7 linked regions of the Homo sapiens genome follow. The protein of the gene in region 1 interacts with the protein of each later gene in a biochemical or structural test. Each region holds a gene or a part of one and is shown in the gene's direction. Other genes may lie near its edges. The genes, in order: MPDZ, ITK, ARHGEF7, FKBP4, RRBP1, NRXN3 and SLC26A3.

Region 1 (4,167 bases):
ATTGCCAGATATTTATGTTTTCTTTTGTTTATTTTATATTCTATAAACCAAGGATGAGAATCAAGATCTTTTCATTAAACATTTGTGGCATGACTGCTATGAACAGACCTATCAAGGCAAATAAGATACACTCGTATTCCTCAAAGAGATTATAGTTCAGAAAGCCATTTTAATAAACAATTACAGCATAATCAAAGGTGCCTTTCTGCTTTTTCTTATGAGTATAAATTTGCCAATTTATAAATAAGACTTTTGTATGGTGGTATAATTAAATAATAGTTTTTAAATATGTGATCTCTATAACCTCTGCTTTTACATTTATGTAGACCTCAAGGTCAGGGATGAAGCAGGAGGAGTCATTGACCTTCCTCAAACCTTTAACAAATTAGGAAATGACAATTGATATTAAATACTTTTATACAGTTCTCATTTTGTAATATTTTACTTGTTCTGCTCTCACTCACTTTACTCTTAGAATGCCTGTATACCTACTCTTTCATAATATCAGAGCTTCTCTTTTACCATGAATCTCTTACAGACAGACTCTCTATTCTCGGGATGCGATTTGTTCATTCTGGCTTACCATAGCATAAGTCCAAATATTTTTTCCTATGCAAACATACCATAGCCATTAGGTCTTGGTGTGTGGGATCCTCAGGCTGTCACAAATTTCATTATGCCATCTGCTTCAACCTGAGCTGCGTGTCTTCTGCTGGCAAACTTTATTGAAGTTGCCATGGCTCAGGATAAAAAAAAAATCAATCTTGGCATAAGAAGCTTACTTTTGAAAAAATAATAATTGATCATGCCTGCTATAGATTTTAAAATAAACATTTAAAAGGATTCCCAAAAGTCTCTTCTCAACACATTGATCTCTTTTTCATCTGTGATTGTAGAAAGCTAATATAATGGTTAAGTTATTGGTAACTTTGGTAACTTAATGAGTTTTCTGTTTTATTTTTAAGGATAGGTAACAAACTCTTATGTATAGATTTTGGTGACATATTGTGAAATATTTTGATAGCTTCTGTCAGTGGATGTTCTTTACCTAATGTTTTATTTTAAATGATATCTCAAATGTTTTGTGGATAATACAAGGACTGTATGTTTTCTGTATAATACAAGGATGATAGGAACACCGTGATGAAAAAAAATCTAGGTCACAAACAACTTAGCTGTGTGACTTTACGTAATTTCATCATCCTTAGCATTGAGATGATACTTGAAAGGTTGTTCAGGAGATTGGATCAGAGTTAGATCCTTAAAAAATAGATAAACATTTTTTTTCTGCCAATGTATGTTGAACAACTCTGTATAAGGCATTCTTCTAGAGAACGAGGGCATAGTAAAAATAAAATAGTCAAAAATTTCCACTGGAGAGTTTTTGCATTCTAGTCGGTCTCCACTGACTGGGATGAAAGCTTCATGACAGCAGGGTGTGGATCAGGTGGTAATGAGTGCCATGAATTAAAACAGGGCACAGTAAGTTCGTGGAGTATAATGGTGCTGTCTTAGATAGGAATGCGAAGGAGGACTTTTCTGTGGTGAGATTAGGCACACCTGAATGAAATAAGGAAGCATGTGGATATTTGGGGAAGAATATACCTGTTTGGTAGAGTGAACAGCTTGGCACTTTGAGGCACAGTGAGGAGGGGAGCACAGCTAGGGCTAAGTGGGTGAGGGACAGACTGCTAGGAGATGAGGTCAGAGAGTGACTCAAAAACATCAATGAAGTAAGCTTTCTGATAAGTAGTTACAGATAAAAAGTCACAATCCAGGCACCCAACATAAATATGAAATTAGGATTGACTGCATTGCTTTATTATTATTTAGATTTAACTTCAAACTCTTTTAAAAGGCACACACAAATAATTATAGAATCATTTCCCAAAGTGGGATGATCTTTTCCGTTGTTGTTACGTGTGTCATTGTACTTGGAGTTAGCCAGACAGCACGATTTGAGGGCACAGTCCTCCAGACTGCCAGTGCTGCCCCACACTTCTGATACCAACTGTGGCGAGTTAGGGTCCAGCTACAAAGTTAAAGGTATAAGGATACACAAAACCACCCTCACTTATGATGTCAGCTGCAAATTTGCGAGGTTCCCCTAGCCACCTTGAGGTTTCATAATTCACTAGAAGGTCTTAGAGAGTCTCTGAAATCTGTTAAACTCATGGTTATGATCTATGGTAGGGAAAGGATGCAGTCAAGAGTCAGCCAAAGGAAGAGATGCGTAGTGCAGATTATGGGAGGATTCCAAACTGGAAGCTTCCATTTTGCTGGGAAAGTATAACTCTCCCAGAATCGATGTGTGACAATATGTATAGAGTACAGCCATGTGTCATTAGGTGATTTCATCCTTGTGCAAACATCGTAGGGTATACTTACCCAAACCTTGGTGATATAGCCTACCACACAGCTAGGCTATTTGGTATTGCTCCTAGTCTACCAACCTGTACAGCATGTTACTATATGGAGTACTGTATGCAGTTGTAGCACAATGGTAATTGTCTGTGTTTCTAAATATAGAAAAGGTACAGTAAAAATGTGGTTAAAAGGTAAAAAATGGTACACCTGTATAGGAGACACGTACCATGAATGGAGCCTGCAGGACTGGAAGTTACTATAGGTGAATCAGTGAGTGAGTGGTGAGTGCATGTGAAGGCCTACGACATTACTGTACACTACTAGATAGTCAATATACTGTATGCTACTAGATAGCCAATATAATGGTTGAGTTATTGGTAACTTTGGTAACAATGAGTTTTCTGTTTTATTTTTAAGGACAGGTAAAAAACTCTTATGCATAGAGTTTATACATAAGTTATAAATACTGTACACCTAGGCTATAGTAAATTTACAAAAACTTCCTTCAATAATAAATTAACCTTAGCTTACTGTAACTTTTTTTTCCTTTATAAAGTCTTAATTTTTTTTTAAACTTTTGACTCTCATAATAGCACTTAGCTTAAAGCACAAACACATGTATAGCTGTGTTTGACTGTGTTGCAAACCCAGGAAGATTACCTGATCTTGGTGTTCAGCATTTTTTATTGGCGTGTTATTTCATAGGTGTGATTGATTGCCCTGCCTATATGATTAAAATTCAGCTCCGAGTTTGGGCTTATATCATGTGGCCTTGGGGCCCACCATGAAGAAGAAAGATACCTCATCACTCAGGAAATTCTGAGAGGGGAAATTCTGAGAGTTTAGAGGTTACTTCATAGGATCTGGGGACAGAAAAATATATGTGTGGATGTATATATTTATGGGTGTGTTTTAATGAGTACCCTGAAGTTGAACCCTGGCGGTAGTTTTTGAATTTTCCCATCTAATAAATGGTGCTGCATTGAACATTTAGTGATGCACACACATCTTTGTGTATTATCCTAATGTTCATCCTTGAAATAAATTTCCCAAAATAGAATTGCTGGATTAAAGGATTTGGACATTTTGAAATTTCATTTGTATGTCCTTGTACCCTTGGGATATTTTCTATGAAATAGTTTATGGAATGTCAAAATTCTTAATAATCCCTGCATTACTCTTAGGTAAATATTGCAACTTCAGCAACTTCAAATATTGAATATGCCCACGTTCCTCATCTCAGCCCAGCTGTGATTCCTACTCTGCAAAATGAATCGTTTTTATTATCCCCAAACAATGGGAATCTGGAAGCACTTACAGGACCTGGTATTCCACACATTAATGGGAAACCTGCTTGTGATGAATTTGATCAGCTTATCAAAAATATGGCCCAGGTAAGAACATTTCTTTCTGTTAGTTATTGTAATACCTGTAGTAATTTAAGAATGTGATCAAGTTATGGATAATTTGAAGAATATAGTGACATTTATAACATCTGAAAACATTGGAACAAAAAGTCAGTTTTGTGGGAGTTTAGATGGTTCAGACGTTTTCTATTACAGTTTTATCATCATTTAAATTTGAGTATTATATGTTGTATTATAGAAATATTCTTCAGGATAAAGTGCTAACAATTACCTTGGAAAAATGTTATTCAATTTCTTTTTTTTTTAACAAAGAAATGATTCTGATAAGATGACTGTTACTGCAGTAATTGGCTTTTAAGTTTTTTTTTGAGACATGCCTTGCTCTGTCACCCACACTGGAGTGCAGTGTTGTGATCATAGCTCACTACAGTCC
Region 2 (4,167 bases), on another chromosome or scaffold:
TGATGTGTCCGTGCTGGATGGGATTTCAGATATTACCTGGTCAGCCTACTCATTTTGTTGGTGAGGAAATTGAGCCTCGGAATCTCGTATTTGTTTGTTAAACATTTCTTGAGAGCCTCCCATGTGCCAGACACTGTGCTAGCTTGTGCCTCTGCACAAATTCTCTTTAAATCTTTCTCTTTAACTGCCCCTCTGCCCCAGTAAGGCCTAATAGGGTTATGTGTATATAGCAGGTGCTCTTAATAGATGAATGAATGAAAGAATGATCAGCTCAATGAAATTTACTTAGTGTGAAAAATGACATAGAAAAATGGGACATTGCAAGAACCCTTTCTTTAATATTTTGATTAATATGGTTTCTTTAATATCTTCATTAATGCCACTCTCCTTCTTTCCATGTTACCTTCCCACACATATTTTCATAGTTTTCTAGCATATCCTATGTTATTATGTGGGAAAAAGATAATTTATTTGCCATCTTTGAATTATATTAACAATAGGCTAAAATTCTAGTTAGGGCTTTATAGTCCCCTGGTATCCCAATACCTTATATCTACTGCTTGCTGACCCCAGAGAACTCTCTCTCTCTCTTCCAGGGAAATGGGTGATCGACCCCTCAGAGCTCACTTTTGTGCAAGAGATTGGCAGTGGGCAATTTGGGTTGGTGCATCTGGGCTACTGGCTCAACAAGGACAAGGTGGCTATCAAAACCATTCGGGAAGGGGCTATGTCAGAAGAGGACTTCATAGAGGAGGCTGAAGTAATGATGTGAGTGCTCAGAACAAGGATATGCAGAAACTCTGGGGGGAACATCGGTTCAGTGTTCTTGAAATGCCATTCAAACGCCAGGGGGTACTATCTCCCTGCGCAAACTCCCAGCAGTGGCTTCCTATTGCACAGAGAATACAATCAAACTCTTCACAGTGGTCTCCAAGGCCCACCATAATCTGATCATGCCCACCTCCCCCTTCTCAGCTCCTACCCATCTCTCCTCCAGTCCATGACATGCCAGCCACACTGGCCTCTGCTCATCTTCACACACACAGCTGACTCCTTGCCATTTTTCAGGTCTCAGCTCCAATGACATGTTTTTGTTTTGGGGAGGGAATGAATATTATTTTCATCCAAACCATAAATTAGACAAAATGACCATTGGCTATTTTGGTACCATAATATTTTCGGCATTTTTGGGAGACTGAGTTTAGGCCATCTCACCCCTTGTCTTTTTCCTCCAGGAAACTCTCTCATCCCAAACTGGTGCAGCTGTATGGGGTGTGCCTGGAGCAGGCCCCCATCTGCCTGGTGTTTGAGTTCATGGAGCACGGCTGCCTGTCAGATTATCTACGCACCCAGCGGGGACTTTTTGCTGCAGAGACCCTGCTGGGCATGTGTCTGGATGTGTGTGAGGGCATGGCCTACCTGGAAGAGGCATGTGTCATCCACAGAGACTTGGTATGAGCATGCAGGGTGAACACCCACAGGTCCAGGGTAAAGGGACAGTTCTCACTGAAATGACTGGGAACGCATTAATAAATAATACATTACAGATAATCTCCTTTCCTTTCTCAACTTCTCCCTTCCTTCACCTACTTTGGGTGGTCCTAGTGGAAAGGGCTTCATGAGGACTTACTTCTGGGCTCTGATCCCAGCCCAAACTCTTTCACCTCCTGCATTTCAGTTTATATTCTTCCAAAATGGAGATAACTGCCACTCCTTCTTAACCTCTCTGTGACTCAATTTCCTCCTGGTAAATTGAGGAAACTGAGTTTGTCTGAAGGTATTATTCAAGGGTCTACCAGAATCACACTGGGGAAGCCCTTAAGCTACTCTCAGAATCTCTGGTGGCTGGGACTCAGGAATATTCATTTTAACACATTCCCCGTATGATTTGTATGCACATTAAAATTTGAGATATGCAGCTGGGTGCGGTGGCTCATGCCTGTACTCCCAGCACTTTGGGAGGCCGAGGTGGGCGAATCACGAGGTCAGGAGTTCGAGACCACCCTGGCCAACATGGTGAAACCCCATCTCTACTGAAAATTCAAAAAATTAGCTGAGCTTACTGGCGGGCACCTGTAACCCTAGCTACTTGGGAGGCTGAGGCAGGAGAATCACTTGAACCCAGGAGGCAGAGGTTGCAGTGAGCTGAGATCAAGCCACTACACTCCAGCCTGGGTGACACAGTAAGACTCCATCTAAAAAAAAAAAAAAAAAAAAAATTGAGACACACTGGAGTGTTATCTCCAATGGCTTTTTCAATGCAACAGTCTATAATACTAATTAGGGGTCAGGTACTCTCCCTATTGAAGAACAGTTTTAAGAGGATTAACAACATCAAAACATTCTTAATTTAGTCAACTGGGAGATGCTTTCTTCCTGTTATCCCTGATGTTAACATTTCCTATCACATCAGGTTGCATTAGAGCCTATCTTTGGTTAGACAACACCAAGGATTTCTAATTAGAACTCAAGAATGAAGATAAACTTACTCATCTTGATAGTGGATCTTACACATTCAACTTTCCAGTTAACTTCCAGCGGCATTTGTGAGGCTTAATTAACATTTGTAAAGCTCCATGATGCCCTTGTATGACAGCACTGCAGTAAAGCAAAGGACTGTGATTATAGGAGACTCCTTAACTACTGATGACTCATCAACAGTTTTCCTCTCCGCCTTTGTTTGCCTGTCTCCTCTCCAGGCTGCCAGAAATTGTTTGGTGGGAGAAAACCAAGTCATCAAGGTGTCTGACTTTGGGATGACAAGGTAAAAGAGGGATGTGGTGCCGGTGAAGTCTCAGGAATGGGACTGAGGCCCCCGGAACATTCTGACCTTCTCCCTCCACTCTCTTCCCAGGTTCGTTCTGGATGATCAGTACACCAGTTCCACAGGCACCAAATTCCCGGTGAAGTGGGCATCCCCAGAGGTTTTCTCTTTCAGTCGCTATAGCAGCAAGTCCGATGTGTGGTCATTTGGTGAGTGTCATGCTGGGCCCCACTGCCCCATGATCTGGGCTTCAGGCCAGCTGTTTCCTTTATCAAATGCAGACAACCCTACCCACACTGAACCCTGTATCATATCATGAGGGTGTCCCACTGGAGGGTTGTGTAAGAAAGGCCCCGAAAACTATGAAAGGGCCTTCATCATTTTGTTTGTTTTTAGAGATACTGGACATGGTGGTGGGAGTTAATTAAAAGTGGAAACAAGAGTTCTGGTGCCAGCTGCTGTGAAGTCAAAAGCTGGAGAAGTCAGGAGATTCAAATATGAGCCCCTTGAAGGCAGGGACCATGTTTTGTCCAACACTACATTTCCATACTTATCTCTCAATAAGTATTAATATTTATTCATTCATTCAACAACAATTAACTGATCATCTATTCTATGCCAAGGGCTAATCTAGGTGCTGAGGATGCAGTGGTTCATAGAACAGAAAAGACTTCTGTTCTTTTGGAACTAAATTTGAGATGGGAGGGGAGACAGAAAATCACAAAAGATCATAATAACAGTCATAAACAATAATAATAATAAACAAGCTAAGGGATAGAAGATAAAGCCAGGCAATCATAAGTAGGTGCTATGAATAAAATAAAACAGTAATGGGGCAGAGTGACTAGGATAGAGAGAGGGTCTGCTTTGAATAGTGTGGTGTGGGAAGGCCTTTCTCAGAAGGTAATTCTTCAGCAGAGACTTGAATGATAGGAGGGAGCTGTCACCATTTGAAGAGCCAGGGAACAGTGTCCCTGACAGAGGGACCAGCAAGTGCAAAAACTTGGTGCATCCAAAGAACAAGGGGTACTGACTTATTGGGAGAACAACAGGCAATGAAGCTGGTAGGCCATCATAAGGAATTAGAATTTCTAAAAAGTGCAAATGGCCATGAAGGGATGAATGATGTTGGTATTGCAGGATGTGCCAAATGTTCTTGCTGGATTTGCCATGTCACCTGAAGTCATAGTTTGTGCATACTAAAGTGTGCAAAAAAATATACCAGACAACCTCTTTGATTTGGATTACAAGAATTATACTGTGGACAGAAACTACTTGAAGATTGATTTTTGCCATTCGGTATGAAGGAAGGGTTTGACAAGGGCTTACTAGTAGTAGAAACCAGGGGGGAGTTTGGCTAGGTAAATCTTTTAGGAGAAGAATGAGTGTTAAAAATCTTCTGC
Region 3 (4,167 bases), on another chromosome or scaffold:
TCCACTTAGTCCAAGATTTCAAACTGTGTGCATCTACACCACACACACTTTTAAAATTCAAGTACTATGTACACACGAACATCTCTCTCCCTTTAGAGGCCACTGATCACTCTAAAATGTAAAGAGTGGAGGCGATGGGGGCTGTGAGGTGAGTGGGGGCAGAGCCGTTTGTTCTTGTGTAGGGTGGATTTTAGCCGTTTGGATTGGAGTCTTGTGTAGGCTTGACGCCCACGCGTCTCTCACTGCACGAGGGAGGTGGCAGAGGCACATCATCCCTTTGGGCACGCAACTCTACCACGTGCATCGCTGGGAGATGGGAGGACTGGCATCCCCCGAACCCACGGGTCCCTGCCTGGAGACACTGGGAGACCCGGTCCTCTGCGTGCTTCAGAGTCAGGCACACCTGGCTTTGTTCCCGCAGCCATTTGCTCTGTGACTTCCGGCACCTGTCTAACCTCTCGGAGTCCTAGTTTCTTCCTCCTAAAAATGAGATGAATGATATCCACTGGTGGGGGCAGTGAGGTCATTACCAGGGTAAATGAGTAGATGTGCTGGGCACAAAGTCATTCCTCAGTACGCAGTAGTTACTGTTTTGTTGATTGACACTGAAAACCTTCCCCATCGTGTCCAGAAGACTGTAAGCCAAGATTTGAACCTCAGAGCCATCCAAATCCAGGAACACGGGTTAATTCTCACAACAGGGCAGACTCTTGCAACTTTCGGGGGCTGGCAGCCTCTGCATCCCACTCTGGACAGACCACCATTGTCTGGGTTGGTGGGCCTGCTGAACGTGGCTTCCAGGGCCCTCTGGTCAGCGCCAGATCTGGGCGCAGCTGCTGAGTGCACACAGCTGCTGGTTGGGGAGCGGGAGGGCTGAGCGGGTGGACTCAGGTTTCGCTTATATAAAGTTTCATGCATCAGCAGGGCCGGGAGTCAGAGATGGGAAGTGAGGGCCAGCCTGCCCCACCTGGTGTCTGCAGAGAGAGGGCTTTGGGGCCGCCCCGGTCCGACTGCTTCCCGGGTACAGCTTCTGACTTCTCCCTCCTTTATCAGTTCTGTCAAGTTAGGGTAGGAGAATTAATCTCTTGATGTTTTTATATTTCTAACTTTAGCTTTGAATTTTTAAGGTTTGATGCACCAGGCTGGCAGTTCTCAACTCTGTTTTTGCAGGATGGTGTCATGTCTGCTGGGGTCTCAAGGCGAGGCGGTGAGGGGAACTGAAATGGAATGTGTGCACAGTGTATTTCAAACACATGTATGTGAATTCATTTAATCATCCCTTTTACCAGGTTCCTATTGTGTGCGTGCTAGTGACCCAATCACACGCATGGAAGCGCACGCATGGATGCCAGCCATACCACCTCTTCAGGCAGGTCAGAAGAGAAATGCTAGGATCTTGGGTATAAAGTATTTGTGAGTTCTCAGGATGAAGGAATGTAGAGTCATCCAGCCCAGACGCCTCCTTTTGCAGATGGCTTCACTGAGGGCACCTGCATGTGGTTGTGTAAGCTGTGTACTGCCCGGTCTTGGGAGAACCGTTCACACTGTAGTCTAAGCAAATGGCTCCAAGGCCTGTGCTGGGAGGCGGCCCTGGGATACTGTGTATAGAGGTCAGCCTCCCAGGACACAAAGCAGAGTGGAGAAGGGTTGGGGTAGACGATAGAAGTGGCCCCAATTCTCCAACCCTCCCATGCCCCTGGCAAAGTGACCTTGTAGCGCCTCCATCAAGAGGTAGGAGTCTGCTTCCTCACTTCTTGAATCTGAGCTGTGACTTGTTTTGGCCAATGGACTGTGGCAGAAGTGGCCAGTGTTAGTTCCTAGCCCAGGCCTTGGAAAGGCTTGCACTTTTCTGCACTCTCTCAGGCCCTGTGTCTACCTCCGAGGAGACCCCAGGGCTTGGGTGCTGGTGGGGTGTGATCACATGGAGGAGAACTCAGTTGTCCCTGCTAGGCCATCCTGGACCTATCCACAGCCAGCCAACCTCAAACATTGAAGAGAGCCCAGCCAGGGTCAGCAAGCTGCCTGCCCTGCCCAGAGCAGGCACAGCTGCACCAGCAGGCCCGGACCAGGCTGACTCAAGCCAGCCACTGAGGTTTACCATGGCCATAGATAACAAATCACACACACACACATACATGCCCGTGCCATTCTTAACTAGGGGACATGCCGATATATGTAAATACAGTCCATCCCAATCACAAGAGTGCTTGTACCTTTGTTTAAAATACCCTCTATATCCTTTATTTCCTTGATAATTTCCTCTCTAGTATTTTCTCTATTCTCATTTTTTAGAAATCTTATTAAGACTAATCAGAGATAATATCTATTGAGTGCATACTGTATGCCAGGCACTGTTCTAAGGACTTTGCCCATAATAATGGATTTAACCCTCCTCACCACCCTATAAGGGAGGTGGTGACAGGATCGCCCCCATTTTCAGATTAGGAAACGGAGCTCCAGAGCGGCTGGTAACTGGCCATCGTTGGCTGGTGGGCTGCGCCCCCCCCCCCCGGCCCCGCCCCCTGCCCCTGCGGCTGCCAGGCCTGCTGGGTTGAGTCTCTCATTTGCTGACCTTTCCACTTGTATGTTTCTTCTCCTTCTGAAAGACATTTCCTTGACTTTATCTCCCAACTTTTCTACTAACATTTTTTATTTTGACCTACTTTGGCTATTTTTTTTTTAATTTCTAAAAGTTCTTTTTTCTCGTTATCTGGTTTCTCTCTGTTTCTTCCCTTTCAGTCAGTCCCTTCCTGTTTCTGGGAAGATTCCTCTCTTCCTGTGAACATTCATTACAGTTTCCTTGAAGGGTGCTTCCTTCCCTGCATTCACTGTCTCTGTTTCCTCTGAGTCCTCTTATGCAATTCTTTTTTTCCATGTTGGAGATTTACTGAAACATCATGTGATCTTTCAAGTGTGAGGCCCTCAAAATGACCAGGAAGTCCTGTGTGACTGCTGGGGCCCAGGGACATGCAGGTCTCGCCATGGGGCAGCCTGGTGATGCCCAGAAGTCTGAACCTGTTGGTCTCTTCTCCAGCAGCCGTGAGTCTCTCCAGAGACTCCTCCATCTGCTGCCTATCAGAGCAGTGTCCATCCTCACCTTGGCTCCTGTCCATGCTGGCCCTCTCCATGTTCTGGCCTCTTTGGTTCACTTTTCCCCAGAGAATAAGCCTCGGACCCCTGCAAGGATGGCAAGAGGGGTGGCCAGCTGTGATGGGGCTGGGGCCCCTAGGCCTGCATCTGACTCTCAGACAGGTGGCTTGTCTACCACCTGGGAGGGTGCACTTGCCACTGGCTACTGGGATGGGACCTTCTAGTCTCTGCTGAAGCCCCACCCATCCTCCGTCTGCTCCCTGCCTTCATAATGGTGGCCTGGGGATAGGTGTCTTCTAGTTTTTTTTGTTTTGTTTTGTTTTTTAGACAGAATCTCACTCTGTCACCCAAGCTGGAGTCCAATGGCACGATCTCGGCTCACTCCAACGGCCGCCTCCCGGGTTCAAGTGATTCTCTTGCCCCCGCCTCTCGAGTAGCTGAGGCTACAGGTGTGCGCCACCATGCCCGGCTAATTTTTGTATTTTTAGTAGAGACAGGGTTTCACCATGTTGGCCAGGCTGGTCTCAAACTCCTAACCTCACGTGATCTGCCTACCTCGGCCTCCCAAAGTGCTGGGATTACAGGTGTGAGCCAGTGCGCCCAACCAGGTGTCTTCTAGTTTTATTGAAGATGATGCTTGTGTTTCTTGTTCTCCTGGCTGTTTTGGAGGGATTTTTTTTCAAGAGAAGTGAGGCTGAAATAATTTTACTGTACTGCTTTGGACCTGGAATCTTTCCATGATGAGAAAAAGAGAGAGAGTGAGAATATATGAATGAATATCCATGTCCTATGCCCTGGGTTTCATATCTCTTCTTCTGAGTACTTTAAAATTACTAGAGAAAACAAAACTGGAAGCTGGTTATTTGAAATGTTCTTTTTTTTCTTGTTGCTTGGTATTTTGTGCATAACTTTATTATTACACTTGGAGCAGCTTTTTTTTTTTTTAGGGGCTGGTGATCATCCTATCTTTTCTCTATAGAAGCTATATATAATTCAGAATCCCAAAAAGTGTATATAAAAGAAACGTAAGCCTCGTCCAGTTTATATTAAATTGCCTTTGTCTAAAATGGGCATCCA
Region 4 (4,167 bases), on another chromosome or scaffold:
ATCACATAAAGAGTTTTCTTCCACCTTGGTTCTTAGCCTCTCCGCTTACCTACTTGCTTTATTCTAAAGTGAATGTTAATGTCTGAAGTCTTTATTTCATCCAAAGACCTGCTGTCTTCCCTCTCTGCCTGTTGGATTAAATGAGGTCCCTGGATTGTTCCATTTAATGCCTCAGGCCTTGTTCTTCCTGGGGTGCAGCCAGCCACTTGCATTCCTCCTCATCCTCCTGAGGGGTACCTTTGGAACCCAGTCTAGGCCAGATGAGCTACAAGCCCTGAGCTCCCACAATGTGGCTTCCTCTCTGCATTCTTTAGGCCCTAGAACTGGACAGCAACAACGAGAAGGGCCTCTTCCGCCGGGGAGAGGCCCACCTGGCCGTGAATGACTTTGAACTGGCACGGGCTGATTTCCAGAAGGTCCTGCAGCTCTACCCCAACAACAAAGCCGCCAAGACCCAGCTGGCTGTGTGCCAGCAGCGGATCCGAAGGCAGCTTGCCCGGGAGAAGAAGCTCTATGCCAATATGTTTGAGAGGCTGGCTGAGGAGGAGAACAAGGTGAGGATTGGGGTGGGGAACAGTTGGAATAGCATCCCTCCACTTAACCTGGCTACTGTGGGCTCTTTGTGCCTTTGGTTGTCTGTGCCAATCCCGGAAACCAGAAGTTGCCTTTTCCCTGGAGCATTAAGGAGCACGTGTTCCTGCTGTTGGGGCCAGTGTTCTGTGATCAGTGCGGGAAACCTACCCACAAGCCCCAGAAGTTGGGTTGGTTGCCCTGAGTGTAATTCCCGATTTATGTTTTCTTGTGGGCCAGGCGCCGTGGCTCACACCTGCAATCCCAGCACTTTGCAGAGCCAAAGTGGGAGGATCACTTGAACCCAGTAGGTAGAGACCTCAGTGACTTAGGATGGCACCACTGCACCCCAGCCTGAGTGACAAAATGAAACCCCATCTCAAAAAAAGAAAAGCGAGATGCTTTTTGTGTGTGATTAAATAAATAATACACTTAGTTAAATTCAAACTGTACCAAAGTATACAGTCAAGTCTGCCTCCCCCACCAGAAGCAGCTGCCCCTTCAGGGTCTTGGATGGTCCAGTGTATTGCGTCAAGGCACAGGCAGACGTTCCTGTTGCTTCCTCCCTTTCCCCTAACACAGGCAACGTGCTCCACCTATGATTTGGCGCATACTATGCTTTTTTCACGTAATAGTAGCTGGAGGCTTATTTTACATCCGTATTTAAAGAACTTTTACATTCTTTCTTAGGCTTACATTGTATTCCATTGTATGGATATGGCTTGTCTTAGTCAATCAGTCCCTTTTTAGTCTTCCAGTGGTTTTATTTTTTTTCTTTTTCTGAGACAGAGTTTCGTTCTTGTTGCCCAGGCTGGAGTGCAATGGCATGATCTTGGCTCACTGCAAACTCCACCTCCTGGGTTCAAGCGATTCTCCTGCCTCGGCCTCCCGAGTAGCTGGGATTACAGGCGCCCGCCACCACACCCGGCTAATTTTTGTATTTTTAGTACAGACGAAGTTTCATCATGTTGACCAGGCTCTCGAACTCCTGACTTTAGTGATCTGCCCACCCCTGCCTCCCAAAGTGGTGGGATTACAGGTGTGAGCCACCACACCCAGCCAGTCTTAAACAGTGTTCTAAACCAGCACTGTCCAGTAGAAATACAGTATCAACCACATGTAATTCAAAATTTTCTGGTAACCATGTTAAAAAGGTGAAAAACAAATGGAATTAAATTTTAGTTGCATTTGTGTATTTTTCAAACCATCTTCAAAATCCAATGTATATTTTGCACTAAAAACACGAGTTTGAACTAGCCACTTACAGTAGTGGCTACCATACGGGACAGTGCTGCTTAGAACAGCATTGCAGTGAATAACCTCATGAGTTCATAATTTGTACATATACAAGTGTTCTGTTTTGTTTTGTTTGAGACAGTGTCTCTTGCCCTGCCGCCCAGGCTGGAGTGCAGTGGCACAGTCTCAGTTCACTGTAACCTCTGCCTCCAGGGCTCAAGTGATCCTCTTGTCTCAGCCTCCCGAGTAGCTGGGACTACAGGTGCATGCCACCACGCCCAGGTAATTTTTGTAATTTTTGTTGAGATGAGGTTTCACCATGTTGCCCAGGCTGATCTCAAACTTCTGGGCTCAAGCAATCTGACCACCTCAGCCTCCCAAAGTGCTGGGATTACAGGCATAAGCCACCAGGCTTGGCCTATACAGGTATAGCTTTAGGACAGATGTAGGAGAATGGGTGTATCTGTGTAATTCTGCTGGAAATTAAGTGTGTGTTTTTTCACTTGGGAAGTCAGCCCGTTTGCTGTTCATCTTCCTTGCAGGCCAAGGCAGAGGCTTCCTCAGGAGACCATCCCACTGACACAGAGATGAAGGAGGAGCAGAAGAGCAACACGGCAGGGAGCCAGTCTCAGGTGGAGACAGAAGCATAGCCCCTCTCCACCAGCCCTACTCCTGCGGCTGCCTGCCCCCCAGTCTCCCCACTCCACCCTGTTAGTTTTGTAAAAACTGAAGAATTTTGAGTGAATTAGACCTTTATTTTTCTATCTGGTTGGATGGTGGCTTTAGGGGAAGGGGGAAAGGTGTAGGCTGGGGGATTGAGGTGGGGAATCATTTTAGCTGGTGTCAGCCCCTCTTCCCTTCCTCCATTGCACATGAACATATGTCCATCCATATATATTCATCAGAATGTTAATTTATTTTGCTCCCTCTGTTAGGTCCATTTTCTAAGGGTAGAAGAGGCAAGTGGTAGGGATGAGGTCTGATAAGAACCCAGGGTGGAGAGGGAGACTCCTGGGCAGCCGTTTTCCTCATCCTTTCCCTCTCCCAGTCCATTTCCAAATGTGGCCTCCATGTGGGTGCTAGGGACATGGGAAAAACCACTGCTATGCCATTTCTTCTCTCTGTTCCCTTCCTCACCCCCGACGGTGTGGCTGATGATGTCTTCTGGTGTCATGGTGACCACCCCCTGTTCCCTGTTCTGGTATTTCCCCTGTCAGTTTCCCCTCTCGGCCAGGTTGTGTCCCAAAATCCCCTCAGCCTCTTCTCTGCACGTTGCTGAAGGTCCAGGCTTGCCTCAAGTTCCATGCTTGAGCAATAAAGTGGAAACAATAAAACCTGGGTGTCAGACAACCCTTTCTGTTCAGCCTTGGAGTGGTGGGTATGGGTGGGTACATAATGGGTAGTAGCACAATCAAGGGGTCACCCACTTAGTTCCAGTTGAGCTTAAATAAGTGAGCATCTCATGTAGATGCCATAGTTGGGCAGGAAGCAGCCCCACCATGCATGGCTTCCTGAGCACTGCACAGGCTGCCGCTGGGATTTGTGTCTATGGCTTCGCCCAAGGTTCCCAGCACTCCCTCCCTCCAGCAACCTGGCAGTTTTAGTGCCTCTGGTTTTCTTCCCTGACACTTAGGAAGACGAAAGTATAAAGATCTAGAAGACTGGGACACCATGCATGTTCATTTTGAAGTTGGAATTGGTCTTCTGCCTACCTCTGATCTGGCAGAGGTATCTGCATTTTGGTTTGTTAACAAGGTAAAACTCCTGGTGTCACTGACCTCCTCCTGTCAGATAACTTACATGATTAAGGTTAAGAGTAAAGCAGAGTGTTCACGTCCAGCTTCCTTCTCAGCCTTAACAGGAAAAGGCTTGTGCTTTTTTTCTAACTATGCTTTGACCCTTAACTCCTATGGCATGATGGGGCCCTGGGAGAAGCCAGGCAGCACAAGCCAGTCATGCTGAGCTGCCTCCAGATAATCCTGGCTCCAGGCCAGAGCCCGTGTCTGCCCTCATCCCTCTCTCCTACTGTGAGCTCTCCAGTCCTTTCCCAACAGCGATGTGGTTGTCTGCTTAGCCACATGCCTGTATAGTTCCTTCCAGAAGAAATGTATAATGGTGGAAGATGTATTTCTGTGTGAAAATTTTCACCAAGTCATACAACACAGCTGATGCTGGAGCCAGGATTAAAATTGGGGTGTACAAGTCTCCCAGTGTGAGTATCCCTTGAGCCCAAGACACCAAGGATGCAGAGAACTGTGACTGTGCCACTGCACGCCAGCCTGGGCAAGAGAGTGAGACCATCTCTTTTTTAAAAAAGTCCCTGTGTAACTGCTTTCTTACTGGGCTTACCTCACATCACAG
Region 5 (4,167 bases), on another chromosome or scaffold:
CTGCGCTCCATGCTGTCCAGGTGGGGCGTGTGCAGGTGTCTCCCAGTGTCTGAGCCCACGGGTTGCTTTTGGGGTGCTGGGCTGTCCAGGAGCCAGTGAGGAGGCTCTGGCCAGGGGACATGGCCAGCAGCAGCTGCAACTAAAGGCCCTGCCCACACTTTGAGGTCACACACGTTTTCCTACCTCATGAAAGGGCCTCCACTCCCAGCCTCTCTCACAGGAATATCTGCCCCAATGGCAGGAGCTTTGCGGTGATTCCCAGGAAGCCTGAGGGTTGTATCAGATGAGGACAACTAGCTAGGGCAGGAGGTGAAGGATGGCCTCAGGCCACCCTGTGAGAGCTATAGTTAGACTCCTAGAATCTTGGCCTTGTAGCCCCCAGTGACCTCAGAGACTGTCTGGCTACCATGTGGTAAATGAAGCTGTGACCAGAGATGTCACCTGACTTGATTGTGGTCACACATCCAGATAGAAGGTGGCCTCTGGGTCTCCAGCTTGCCTTGACTCACAACTAGAGGCCTCAGTGGTGGTCGTGAGGTCAAGGGTCCACATGGGTCACGGGCCCTACCTGTGGATAACTTGGCCAGCCAGGAAGGGCCCGCTTCTCAGGTGTGCGTCAGGCCAGAGGGCGCTGCGCTCAGGCTGGGTGTCCGGTGGTCAGCATCCTTCATGCACATTCCAGGACTCTGCTTGGGGGAGTTAACACTCCATCAGCTCTGATCCAGGTGGAGTTCCTGGGGCCTCCCTGGGTCTTAGGCCAGGCCTGTCCAGGTGGTGGCAGGGCCAGACACAGGCTGTTACCCCAGCAGCCTTCCCCTCGGGGTGTGGGAGAGCCCAGCTCTCTCCCGGGGGACACTGTGGTCCTAGGCTTTGCTTCATGATTCCCTTGGGCCCCCTTTGTTTCCTTTTGTTTCCTTATCTTTGTTGTGCTTTGAATGGGGGCCGCTGGCTCTTCGTTGAGGACTGAGGGGGTGTCCGACCCAGCATGGCACAGGGTGCAAAGTCCCTGTCTCCTCTGAGTGGGCTTCTCCCTCTGCAGAGGGGGAATGCTGATCCACCCTCTCCAGGGTGGCTGGAGATGAGCCTCTCTGGGTTGCCCCTTCCTGGCTGCCACTAGCCCCTAACCGTGGTGCCGCCAGCAGACGCACTGCTTCCCTGCCTTCACCCCCATCCCCATCACAGCTCTAGATTCCAAAACATTGGGGGCCATGAGTGTCCTCCCATCCCTTCTTCCTGCCCTGGCTCTCACACATCAACTGCGGACCCCCCAAATTCCCCCACACATGCACACATGCCCAGAGAGCTCGGGAAGTGAGAGCTGGTGGAGACTGTCCCTGCTGGGAGATGTCCCGGGAGCTGGCACCTGCCATCTTGGCCTGACCCAGTATGCTCCTTTCATCAGAGCTTAGTCTGTTTGAAATGGACCAGATACAGGCTGGGTAACCCCTCTGCTTACAGTCAGCCCCATGGAGCCTCATCTTCTCCTTTGATTCTTGTCGCTTCCCTGAAGAGCTGAGGATGTGCCCTTTCTGGGGCAGAGACCCGGGCATATCAGTAAAGACCTGGGGAGGTGCCCCACACCTCCACAGCTGAACACCTTCCGCTCTTCCCCACCCACCCCCCAGGAGGAATCGGAGAAGCAGCTCTGTCTGATTGAGGCGCAGACCATGGAGGCCCTGCTGGCTCTGCTCCCAGAACTCTCTGTCTTGGCACAACAGGTAGGAGGGGAGGGTGGTTCCCGGGGACCTCACAGTTCTCAGGGAATGTCCCCGGGTCTCACCGAATGTGTTTCATTGCAGAATTACACCGAGTGGCTGCAGGATCTCAAAGAGAAAGGCCCCACGCTGCTGAAGCACCCGCCAGCTCCCGCGGAGCCCTCCTCGGTAAGTGTGGCTGCCTGGCAAGGCTCCTCTGTTGGGCTCCCCTGTCCCCAGGAAGAGGGGCTGCCCCAAGTCATTTCAACGGGAAGCCAAGAGAAGAACCTTTGTGTGTGGCTAACTAAACACCTGTTCTTCCCTCTCTCAGGACCTGGCCTCCAAGTTGAGGGAGGCCGAGGAGACGCAGAGCACACTGCAGGCCGAGTGTGACCAGTACCGCAGCATCCTGGCGGAGACGGTGAGCATTGGGAACCTGTCAGCTGGGCATCCCTGGGAGGCTGCAGGGAAGGAGAGCTTCGGGGCCTATGGGGCAGGAGGTGGCCTGGTGTTTTGGAAAAGCCCACTGGCCTTGTGACTCTGGGCCCCGTTCTTCGGCTGCATGGTAAATGGATGGCACCCTCTGAGGTCGTCATTGTTTCTAAGCTGAAGAGAAGGCCAAGTTGAAGGTTCGGGGCCGGTCTCTAAGCTGGGGAAGGGGAAGGACGGGGTAAGCAGCTGGTGACTGCCAGGTTGAACCCCGTTTGTGACTAAGAGCAATGCCAGGTCTAGCCCTGCCACTCTCTGGCCAGCCCATCCTGTGCTCCTCGTCCTGGGCCATTGACACACTTGGTGCTGGTGGCAAACCCCGGCAGTAACAAGCATCCTAGTGGTCCTGTGCAGGTCACAGACCTCATTTCCTTGCCTGGCACTGCAGCCACACTGGCCCACTGGCCAGAGGACCTCCCTCCCAGGACAGTGGTTGCCTTCCCTCCCCACCTAACGCTGGCGCTCATGAAGTCAGCAGGCGGAGCACGGCAGGTCACCAGGGCTGCAGGGACAGGAAGATGCGGTTGTGTGGTGCGGGTCTCGGGAGGGAGAGGGCCCTGCCTCACCTCGGTTTCCCCCCAGGAGGGCATGCTCAGAGACCTGCAGAAGAGCGTGGAGGAGGAGGAGCAGGTGTGGAGGGCCAAGGTGGGCGCCGCAGAGGAGGAGCTCCAGAAGGTATATGCAGCCCTGCCTGCCTCCCGGCGCCGTGGAGCACATGAAGCCCAGGGGAGAGTTGACAGGATTGTCTCTGTCACCTGTGAGACTCGTGTGTCTCGGTGGGGCTTTTCCACGACACCCTATGAAGCACAGTTGCGGGATGACAGCTCAGTCCGTCCTCCAGGAGGCCCCCGCCTAGGAAGACACTGCCAGATGGCGCCAGGGTGACCGTCCCAGCTGGGCGGAGTGGGCACCCCCGGGGCTTCCTAAGTTGGGTCAGTCCCGCTCGGGTCCTAGCATGGCCTCGGAAGGAGACACCCCCAGGTGCTCGTGTCTGACGGAGCCTTCCCCTTGCTTTGTAGTCCCGGGTCACAGTGAAGCATCTCGAAGAGATTGTAGAGAAGCTAAAAGGAGAACTTGAAAGTTCGGACCAGGTATGTGCTCTGCTCAGAGAACTCTTTCTCTTGTCCCGGGAGCCTCTTTGAAAGTGACGTTAATGCAGAGGACACTTCACTGATTTCTTCCTCATGGACCGTGTGCCTTAAGAGAGGCATTCTCTCTCAAGCCAAGGGATCTTGTCCATCCTGTTTTTCCTTAATGAGAGACATTGACTACCTCAGAGGACCCTGAGACCCAGCCACGGGCCCTGTGCAGACCTGCCCAGCCCTGGTGAACAGGGCTTCTGCCACGGCCTTCACAGTCAAGGTGGCCCCACTGCCCCCTTCAGACGCCACAGGGAGCCCTGGAGAAGGTACCCTTGGTACCTGCTTTTGCAAGTAAATCTAAGAGCATGTCAGTCCCCAGGAGTGCCCGGGTGCAGCCTGCCACTTTCCGTAAGGGGTTCTCTTGCCGCGGACTAGTTTCTCGTTTGCTTGGTAGCTGGTGGGCCTCAGGGATCTCCCGAGAGGCCTCACCTATCCCAGGGCCAGCCTGCTCCCTGAGGTGAGTGCCCTTTGAGCAGAGGCTGCTGGCGCATGCGTGTGCGTGTCTGTGCATCTGTCCAGGTGAGGGAGCACACGTCGCATTTGGAGGCAGAGCTGGAAAAGCACATGGCGGCCGCCAGCGCCGAGTGCCAGAACTACGCCAAGGAGGTGGCAGGGGTGAGTCTGCCCCCCAAGGAGTGCAGCCCCTGCCCAGCAGATCTGCGGTCCTCCCTGAGCTGCTTCTCCTCAGCCCTGTGGGAGCAGCTCTCGGTGACATAAGCCTTGAAGTCCGAGTCCTCAGGCGTTTGCCCGAAGCCTCACAGGCCCCTCGTTGGGCTGTCAGGCCTGAGGTGTCTCTCAGGGCAGGTTTCAAAAAGGCAGCCTCCCAGCCAGGACAGGGGCAG
Region 6 (4,167 bases), on another chromosome or scaffold:
ACTAGTTAGCAATCACCAATTTAAAAAACTCACTTTGCTAAGTCAACATTTCTGAGTCTAACAGTTTCAAGTCATGGATATCTAGGCTGAGTATTTTGAAAATCTAGCTTCCAGCTCAGCATATATTGCATACAGCATGAAAGCAATGCATACAAATATTAGACTAATGCAAGGCAAGCTGTCATTTAATAGTCAGGGGGATTTCTGGAAAAGCATGGTCAAAATGGATTTGTTAGATGAATATTTTTAACTTTTTAAAAATCCCTATTGCTCAGCTTATAGTAAACAAGGACTGTGATTAATAAGTGTGAAATAAAAGGAAGTAACTTAAGAAAACACAAAAGACACAATCTTTTATGTTTCTTGATCTTGGTCTCAATAAGATGGTGAATCGGTCATTCTCATCCTCCTGGGAGCAAATGAGCAGAATCCCAAGAAGGCAATAAAGAAATCTTAAACGCATGTTAATAAATTCTTAAGTTAAGCACACAATGTGTGCGTGTACCCACACATGCCAATTTTGATAGCCAGCCAGTATTTATAACAGTATCATTGACTGAATGTCATCAGCCCATAAGCAGATCCTGGAAAGAACATATATAGTTGAATTTTATCTAAATAATTACTTGAGAGTATCTTTAAAAAATCTAAGCCCCTGATCTAGGGATTTCAGGTTTGGGTGGCAAGAGGCATACAGAAGGCTCCAAATCTGCCTAGAATGATTAGACTCCATCCAGAAAAGATCCAGATCTTTTTATTATAATTTCTGAGGCATAATCTGTGAATGACGTTGGTTGAGTGAGAGTTGTTTACAAATATACTAATTGTTTTTCTTTTTCTTTTCCATCCCAGGAGGTGAATTAGTTATCCCTCTTCTTGTAGAAGACCCTTTAGCTACCCCTCCTATTGCTACTCGTGCACCTTCCATTACACTCCCCCCTACCTTTCGCCCCCTCCTCACCATTATTGAGACCACCAAAGATTCCCTGTCCATGACCTCTGAGGCGGGGTTACCTTGCTTGTCGGACCAAGGCAGCGATGGTTGTGATGATGATGGCTTGGTGATATCTGGGTATGGCTCAGGGGAAACCTTTGACTCTAACCTGCCCCCTACTGATGATGAAGATTTTTACACCACCTTCTCCTTGGTAACAGATAAGAGTCTTTCCACTTCAATCTTCGAAGGTGGCTACAAAGCACATGCGCCCAAGTGGGAATCCAAGGACTTTAGACCTAACAAAGTCTCCGAAACTAGTAGGACTACTACCACATCTTTATCCCCTGAGCTGATCCGCTTCACAGCTTCCTCCTCGTCTGGGATGGTGCCCAAATTGCCAGCTGGCAAAATGAATAACCGTGATCTCAAACCCCAGCCTGATATAGTCTTGCTTCCGTTGCCCACTGCCTATGAGCTAGACAGCACCAAACTGAAGAGCCCACTAATTACTTCCCCCATGTTCCGTAATGTGCCCACAGCAAACCCCACGGAGCCGGGAATCAGACGGGTTCCGGGGGCCTCAGAGGTGATCCGGGAGTCGAGCAGCACAACAGGGATGGTCGTCGGCATTGTGGCTGCTGCCGCCCTCTGCATCTTGATCCTCCTGTACGCCATGTACAAGTACAGGAACAGGGACGAGGGGTCCTATCAAGTGGACGAGACGCGGAACTACATCAGCAACTCCGCCCAGAGCAACGGCACGCTCATGAAGGAGAAGCAGCAGAGCTCGAAGAGCGGCCACAAGAAACAGAAAAACAAGGACAGGGAGTATTACGTGTAAACATGCGAACACTGCTCACACGCGAGTTTTCACAGTTATTTCTATCCACGCCTATGAATCTTTGGACGGTGAGATCTCACAGATGTCAGAACTGCTGGAACTATGAAATGGGGTATATAACCACGACTCTGGTGGGGAAAACCGTTTTTTAAAGGACACACACACACACAGCGATGCATCTCTCTCTAAAGCTCAGCCACGGCTGCGGCAAGGTCCCAGCGGTCGCTGGGAGACAGAAGGTTTTGTGCCCTGCTGTATCATAAAGCACACACTTAGCGCTCTGGAGCCGGACGGTGGCTCCACCACTTCCGCAGGCCTGGAAACTTCCTTCTCCGGAGGACCTTTTACTAAAAGGTAGAAGACTTCATGGCTTACTTGTTCCATAACTCCAAGTGAGTCTGTAATGTTTGTGAAGCTTGACTGTAACCATGTTTTTTCTGTTTAATTATGTAAAAAACAAAACTACAACAACAAAAAAAGAAAAAAGTTAAAAAAGAAAAAAACACCAAAAAACAAAAACAAACAAAAAAAAAAACCCACAACCCTTATCTGGTTCTGACCAGTGTGCGTGTAACTTTATGATCTGAGGGGAAAAATGGCTTTTGGGTTTTTGTTTATTTTTTTGATAATGACTGGACATCAGAAGAGGAAAAAAACTCAAAACAAAAGCGAGAGAGACTATTGCCATATGAACTCAAAAGCTATCATGGTGTTCACTCTACATATCAGGTTATGGTGTCTCTAGAATCTGTTGTTTGTTTCCTATAAGATGCTTTGCTGAACACATAGCAAAATTCATGTGACGGATGATAAATTGATTCGAAAAGCTGGTCCCCCAGGATCTAATTTCAGAATTTACCACCCAAACCCGGAACAGATGGGTTTAGGGCTGGTGTTATCAGAGCTATTGGCTTTACGTAACAATATTGTTCCTGTCCATTCACCCAGCCAAATTGTGTTAAAGAGGAAAGCCCCACAAACTAAAACAGCCTTTCCTAGGGAAGAGGAAGGGGAGGTGGGCTGGATCTGTGACTGATTGAAATGCATGCAAATAAAAAAGACAATATTAAAGTCTGTTATCAAACCAGACAGTAGGGGAGTTCAACTCGTGATGGAACCACAAAAGGTCACACAAGCCAACCATGTCATGCCAGAGTACAAAACACATAGTTCTTTCCCCGCCCCGAATGTGACAATGGTTTTCATAGTGGTTTAATTTTGTAGCCTGACATTTATGGATAACTCTGTCCTTCCATTTGCTCACTTCTCTCTTCACCCATCTTTTTTAAAAACAAATAAATGAATAAAGCTGCTGTGACACACACACAAAAGGAATTTAATAGTATAATATATATATAAATAAATATATATACAGATATATTTATCATGGTATGTTTGATGGGATGACTGACACAGGAAATCTGTTAAAGTCTTAAAATGGAATGAGAATGTTGTTTTAAAAGAAAATAGCAAAACAACAAAAAAGCAAACCTTAAAATGTGAAGAAAGTGTGAATTTTAGTTTTGTCACAGTTAACTGTGTCAAAGAGAATTAAAAAAAAAAACTTCAGATTTTGTTTACATATTTTACTACATTTTTGCTGGTATAATTCCTTAGCCACCTATGTACATACTGCTTTAAGAAATGTTTTTTTCCTGTTTATTTCTGTTTGGTTTATATTCTGGTTGTCTTTTTCTTTTTGTAAAGAGGAAACAATGTACAGAAAAACAATAAACTGGTTGTATGGCCATAGCTATCCGAAAAGCAAGAGACAAAGCAAGACAAATATTCACACAAAAATGAAGTGTGTCCTCTGGAGGGTCAGATATACAATTTCTTTTGTACAGATGAAAATCAATCAGCTGCTTAGATTTAGAAATCTACTCTTGCTGGTCTTTGTAAGTTGCATGAATATTTGACTTTGAAAAAATATCTTAACGACATGGGGCAAAAAGTGCAATCTAAATGGTAGCCTTTACTAATGTGTGTGGAAAGAGGTGTTCCTCATTATCTAATATTTCAATGTGTTAAGAGTTTAATTTTTTTGTTATCATTAAAAAAGACAGGATTATAAAGAGATATCAAAGCACGATTTTAGATAACCTAAACGGCCCAGCCTATACGAAGTTGATTATATCTCGATGTCTGTAAAAGATTGCTGTTCTTGGAGTCTTGAGGTCTTGTGAATTGATTTCCTGCTTTCTTTCATTTTTTTCAATTTAAGTAATAATACATTTGTTATATTCCTTTCAGTGTAAGTTTCTATTTGGACAATTTTATGGGAACATGTGCATTCTCTATGTGAGCTTCTATCATATTCCTGTTTTATTAGCAGAACCTAAAGGAATTTATTTAATGATGTTGTGACATTACTGCTTTTTCTTTTTTC
Region 7 (4,857 bases), on another chromosome or scaffold:
TCAAAGTGGTTCTCCTTGAGAAAGTGATGTTGAAGCTAAGTAACAGCCAAACCGAGAGAGAGAGAGAAGTGCATTTAAGCAGAGAAAATGATGTCTGCAAAGAGTGGGCAAATTTGGGACTACAGGAGGCCACCATGGTGGGAGTGGAGAAAACAAAAGTAAGAGCAGAGTCAGATGAGGTTGGAGAGTTGTGCAGGGGGAGATCATGCAAAGACTTTGGAGGCCTGTTTTCCCTCTGTGTAATCATCAGCCCCACAAAGAGGACTAGTGTGAAAAGATCATTCTGATTAATGAGTGGTAAAGAGATGGGGAGGGCTGCGAGAGGAAGCAAGAAGTGCAGCAAAGGTAAGAGTGAAGATGAAGAAAAGTGATGGCTTTGGGATGTATTTTGGAGGCATGCTCAATAGGGTTTAAGGATGGATTGGCTGCGGGTGGGGAGAAGGTCTGCAAGAAGAAGTGTCAGAGATGGTTCCCAGGTCTCTGACATGAGTAAAGGGGAATATTCTTTACTGAAATGGGGAAGACTAGAGATGGAGCAGATTTGGGAGGAAAGATCAAGAGGTCTTAATCTCGATATGTGTCGTGTTTGAGATGCCTATGAGGCATCCAAGCAAAGATGTGGAATAGGCAGTTAAATATGTGGACCTAGAGAGCTGGGGTTAGAAATCTGAATGTTGCTGGGAGCCATAGGACTCTTATTTAGGGTAAGAGGGTAGCAAGAGAGGAGAAGGAAATTCAGAACAGAATCTTAGGAAATGCCAAAGAAAGAGTTAGAGGAGAAATTGGCAAAAAGGATGAGGTGAAAAACAAGTGTGTTAAAAATTTTTTTTTAGCATTTCAAGAAGAGAAGATTTTAGCCCGGCATGATGGCTGAGGCCTCTAATCCCAGCTACTCAGGAGGTTAAAGCAGGAGGATCACTTCAGGCCAGGAGTTTGAGACCAGCCCGGGCAACACAGCAATACCCCATCTCTAAAATTAACTAATTAGTTAAATAATTTTTAAAATAAAAAGAGGAGTTCATGAAAGTGTAGTCAGCAATGCCAAATGCTTTTAAGTAAGATGAGAGTTGAAAGTATTCATTGTGTTTAGCAACATAGGGTTTATTGCTCTTAGGAAGAGCTGTGGTGGGGGCAGAAATTGGAATGCAGATATGGCCTGTGGCTGGGAGTTGGGTGAGTGTTCCTAATGAGGGCCTTTATCATACCAGGAGTTAACCTATACACCACACTTCTGCAGCCCATGACAGATTCCATGGAGTCATCCAGCCAAAAAACACCACCACTAAACTCTCATCTAAACAGGTTGGTGAAATGTCAAGGAGATAACCCTTGAGAAGATTCTTTTTTTTTTTAAGTACACGTGAGCATCTGCTGTGCAATCTCTGCAAACCAATGAAATTACGTACACACAAGTGCATTAAACCACCCACTGGTGGTTTAATCTCACAAGGAACTTGAGGAAGCAATCTTCATCATCACTTCTGCTGATCAAAGTCTCAAAGGTCAAGACCACATTGCAGTCTTTTCATTGTTGTAAAAGTTAATGAGAGTTAATTATTAAAGCTGACAGAAAGGTAATTTGTCCACTGTCTTACATAGCCTATATATAGACATCCCTATGCATATGGATGCACACAGAGCCTGTAGACCTGAGTGGATGGACACTGCCTCTTAGAACTAGAACTTAGAACTTTATCTTGAAAATGTACCACTGTTGCAGAAGCTCCTCACAGAGTATGTGTCAGGTAGGAACCAAATTTATGATTGTTATATTCAAACTGGTTTTCTGTTCCTTGAAAATGGTATTTTTTCTGATCAAAGCCTATTTAGGAGTTATTATGTTCTTGAGTTTATTCCATGTGTGTGAATATTTTGAATGAATCCACTAATAAGATATGCATGTATGTCTGGAGCGCTAGCAATGTAGAATAAATATTTAAGTAGACTTTAACAAGTAAATGGTTGTAGGCATCATTAAGTCTTAAATAGCCTTTTCAAAGATATTAGTGTTCTTGTTTTAATTATTCAGATAATTCCTTTAATTCTCCACTCAAATCTGACTTTATAGATAGATTGTCTGCTCTGAGGGTTGGCAAAAAAAAAAAAAAAAAAAGCAAGCTTTAAGGAAAGAGTTTCTCCAGGAGAGAGAATCACCTACTAGAAAGGATTCAGAAAGGCCATCTGGTCCCAGCCAGGCATAGGGATATGTATCTATAGTCCTAGCTACTCAAGAGGCTAAAGCAGGAGGATAGCTTAGCCCAAGAGTTTGAGGTCAGCCTAGGCAACATGGCAAGACCTTGTCTCTTAAAAAAAAAGGGAGGGGGTAGGGGACATATGGTCTAGAAGTGAGAGATTTATCTGCTAGACATCCTAGAAAGTCCAAGACTAAGGGAAACACGGAGAGAAGAAAAGGCAATGAGAGTAAGAAGGATAGAGACTGGAAAGAGAAGAGAGATGGGGAGAAAATGGTCACTGGAAAGTAGCAGAATGCCCTATGCCACAAGTAGTATAATATAATATAATACATTAGTAATGTATGGGTACTTATCCCATACATTACTAACTCTATCAAGATAAAATCTATTTTATTCTTTAAAATGTCAGGAAAAGATTATACAACTTTCTTTATATATGCAAGTGAGGAACAATTTATCAAATTATTGGACTAAATAATTCTCTTTTCTGAAGTAAGTTAGTCATTTGGAAAAACTGTGTCATGAAATTTGACTGCATAAAGATCATTCCTTTTTTTTTTTTTTTTTCTGAGACGGATTCTCACTCTGTCGCCCAGGCTGGAGTGCAGTGGCACAATCTCTGCTCACTGCAACCTCTGCCTCCCAGGTTCAAGTGATTATCCTGCCTCAGCCCCCCAAGTAGCTGATACTACAGGCACGCTCCACTGTGCCTGGCATTTTTTTTTTTTTTTTTTTGTATTTTCAGTAGAGACGGGGTTTCGCCATGTTGGCCAGGCTGGTCTCGAACTCCTGACCTCAGGTGATCCTCCCACCTCAGTCTCCCAAAGTGCTAGGATTACAGGCATGTGCCACCCCATCCGGCCAAGGATTATTCCTAATGAAAATTTAGGAAGCAACTAATTTGATTTCAGAAACAAGAAAAATGGGGTAACACAATACATACTTTGCCTTCTCCCTCTGGATAAGGGAATAAGTAAGTATATAAAGAAATGAACAAATGTTTAATACCTCCTAAACAGCTCATATTCGACTAAGAAACAAAATCGTTCAGAAAATGAGAATGAATATTTTTCAATTACAAGAATAAATATGTAATAACACAGTCTGGTGCTTCTCTACAATAAAGGTCTTTGATTCTCCAAAGAGAAGAGAAGAGGCTCCTCTAGCCTCTGTGTCACTTTGTTGAGAAGCAAGGGGAAGAATAAAGCAAGTCACCTCAAGGAGATTTGTCCCCAGGCCACCAGGCTCATGTTTTGTGTTGTGGATATTGAGTGTAGGAGTGTGAGGCTTTCATGCTCAAAAGCAAGGACCCTGATGGTGCCTCACCTTGTTCTTTTACCTTGTCTCTCTTGGGGGTAGGGGCTGAGACCCCTGACATTGAATATGTAGCAGAGAAGAAGACGTAGTGGAGAGAGTCAGTTATTCACTAGATGTGGCTTCTCATCCTGGCTCTGGGAAGTTGAGAAAGTCATTTATCTTCTCTCATCTCCATTTCTTCATCTGTAAATTAGCGACAATACAGCCTATCTTGTCTGCCTCCATCCACAGTAATACTCAAGGAAGAAAAGTGAAAGTGCTCAGAAAATCTCAAAGCCTTACAGAAATGGCCAGGGATTCTCTTTTGCCTGCTGTGAGCCTACTGGGTGTGAAATCCCTTGCTATGGTGCATCCCAACATTTCTCTAATGGTTTAGCCTATGGGCCAACAAAGCCTTCTGTTTCAGTGTTTGGAACTCTCAATAACCTTTCACATGATTTGCTTATTGCCCACTGCTTTGTCATCACCCCTGCCAAACCTATCTGTTCTTTAAAGTCTAACACAAGACTCACAGTTCCTTCACAAAACCTTCCTAACTCCAACCCACATTTACATCCCTTCTTCCAATTTATTATCTGCACCAATTATTTTGGGCACTTCTCCTGTGTATGTAAACTTTGGAGTTTAGGTCTACGTCATTTATATATCTTTTGCTCATAGTTCAGTTTATTTCAACAAACTTTCTTGTATACTTACTATGTCATAGGACCTAACAAAAGAGGGAAAAATGGTTAAGATTTGGGCCTTGCCCTTGGGAAACTCAGTCTTAAAGGGAACAGAAACATAAACAAATAATGTATGACATGGAATAGACATATATACAAGGTACTTACAAGAAGGAAATGATCAACTCTATCTAGGGATTCCATGAAGGCTTTACATCATTTTCTTATCTTCTACAACTGTGTTAGGAACTGAGTTCCTGACAAATAATAGGCTGATACATGTTTGTTGAAGGAATGAAGAAATGAATCAATGGTCAGCTGAGTTGTGTTTTGTTTGTTTGTTTGTTTTAGAGACAGGGTTTCTTTATATTGGCCAGGCTGGTCTTGAACTCCTGGCCTCAAGCAATCTCCCCACTTCAGTCTCCCAACGTGCCAAAATTACAGGCATGAGCCACTGCACCCAGCTGTGCTGAGTATTTTTAAGAATGAATTGGAATCTACCAGGTATTGGAGAAGAAGAACACAAAGGAAATCATGTGTACAGAGATACGGAACTGTTAAATATCATAGCGTGTTAGGAACCTGCTGCAATTGTGAAGGAGGAGTGAAGAAGCTTGTGAGATAGACCAGAGCCAAAACATGAAGGACCTTGTATGTCATTCTAGGAAGCTCGGATAGCT

What was found.
Region 2: the proteins of MPDZ (region 1) and ITK interact in a test that uses a peptide from one of them, tested with the Homo sapiens proteins (one large-scale study listed by IntAct).
Region 3: the proteins of MPDZ (region 1) and ARHGEF7 interact in a test that uses a peptide from one of them, tested with the Homo sapiens proteins (one large-scale study listed by IntAct).
Region 4: the proteins of MPDZ (region 1) and FKBP4 interact in a test that uses a peptide from one of them, tested with the Homo sapiens proteins (one large-scale study listed by IntAct).
Region 5: the proteins of MPDZ (region 1) and RRBP1 interact in a test that uses a peptide from one of them, tested with the Homo sapiens proteins (one large-scale study listed by IntAct).
Region 6: the proteins of MPDZ (region 1) and NRXN3 interact in a test that uses a peptide from one of them, tested with the Homo sapiens proteins (one large-scale study listed by IntAct).
Region 7: the proteins of MPDZ (region 1) and SLC26A3 interact in a test that uses a peptide from one of them, tested with the Homo sapiens proteins (one large-scale study listed by IntAct).

What each region holds. Positions count from the first base shown.
Region 1 is NC_000009.12:13,223,968-13,228,134, reverse strand, and holds part of MPDZ (multiple PDZ domain protein), read left to right. Parts: intron 1-3,551; coding exon 3,552-3,761; intron 3,762-4,167. UniProt on the Homo sapiens protein: Member of the NMDAR signaling complex that may play a role in control of AMPAR potentiation and synaptic plasticity in excitatory synapses. Promotes clustering of HT2RC at the cell surface.
Region 2 is NC_000005.10:157,243,027-157,247,193, forward strand, and holds part of ITK (tyrosine-protein kinase ITK/TSK), read left to right. Parts: intron 1-596; coding exon 597-768; intron 769-1,235; coding exon 1,236-1,452; intron 1,453-2,699; coding exon 2,700-2,764; intron 2,765-2,854; coding exon 2,855-2,973; intron 2,974-4,167. UniProt on the Homo sapiens protein: Tyrosine kinase that plays an essential role in regulation of the adaptive immune response. Regulates the development, function and differentiation of conventional T-cells and nonconventional NKT-cells.
Region 3 is NC_000013.11:111,121,364-111,125,530, forward strand, and holds part of ARHGEF7 (rho guanine nucleotide exchange factor 7), read left to right. Parts: intron 1-4,167. UniProt on the Homo sapiens protein: Acts as a RAC1 guanine nucleotide exchange factor (GEF) and can induce membrane ruffling. Functions in cell migration, attachment and cell spreading. Promotes targeting of RAC1 to focal adhesions. May function as a positive regulator of apoptosis.
Region 4 is NC_000012.12:2,800,803-2,804,969, forward strand, and holds part of FKBP4 (peptidyl-prolyl cis-trans isomerase FKBP4), read left to right. Parts: intron 1-314; coding exon 315-554; intron 555-2,348; coding exon 2,349-2,456; 3' UTR 2,457-4,167. UniProt on the Homo sapiens protein: Immunophilin protein with PPIase and co-chaperone activities. Component of steroid receptors heterocomplexes through interaction with heat-shock protein 90 (HSP90).
Region 5 is NC_000020.11:17,619,406-17,623,572, reverse strand, and holds part of RRBP1 (ribosome-binding protein 1), read left to right. Parts: intron 1-1,625; coding exon 1,626-1,718; intron 1,719-1,799; coding exon 1,800-1,883; intron 1,884-2,025; coding exon 2,026-2,115; intron 2,116-2,765; coding exon 2,766-2,858; intron 2,859-3,202; coding exon 3,203-3,274; intron 3,275-3,844; coding exon 3,845-3,940; intron 3,941-4,167. UniProt on the Homo sapiens protein: Acts as a ribosome receptor and mediates interaction between the ribosome and the endoplasmic reticulum membrane.
Region 6 is NC_000014.9:79,860,187-79,864,353, forward strand, and holds part of NRXN3 (neurexin 3), read left to right. Parts: intron 1-852; coding exon of another isoform or gene 853-1,155; coding exon 1,156-1,778; 3' UTR 1,779-4,167. UniProt on the Homo sapiens protein: Neuronal cell surface protein that may be involved in cell recognition and cell adhesion. May mediate intracellular signaling. Functions as part of a trans-synaptic complex by binding to cerebellins and postsynaptic GRID1.
Region 7 is NC_000007.14:107,799,999-107,804,855, reverse strand, and holds the start of SLC26A3 (chloride anion exchanger), read left to right. Parts: upstream 1-1,632; 5' UTR 1,633-1,745; intron 1,746-4,857. UniProt on the Homo sapiens protein: Mediates chloride-bicarbonate exchange with a chloride bicarbonate stoichiometry of 2:1 in the intestinal epithelia. Plays a role in the chloride and bicarbonate homeostasis during sperm epididymal maturation and capacitation.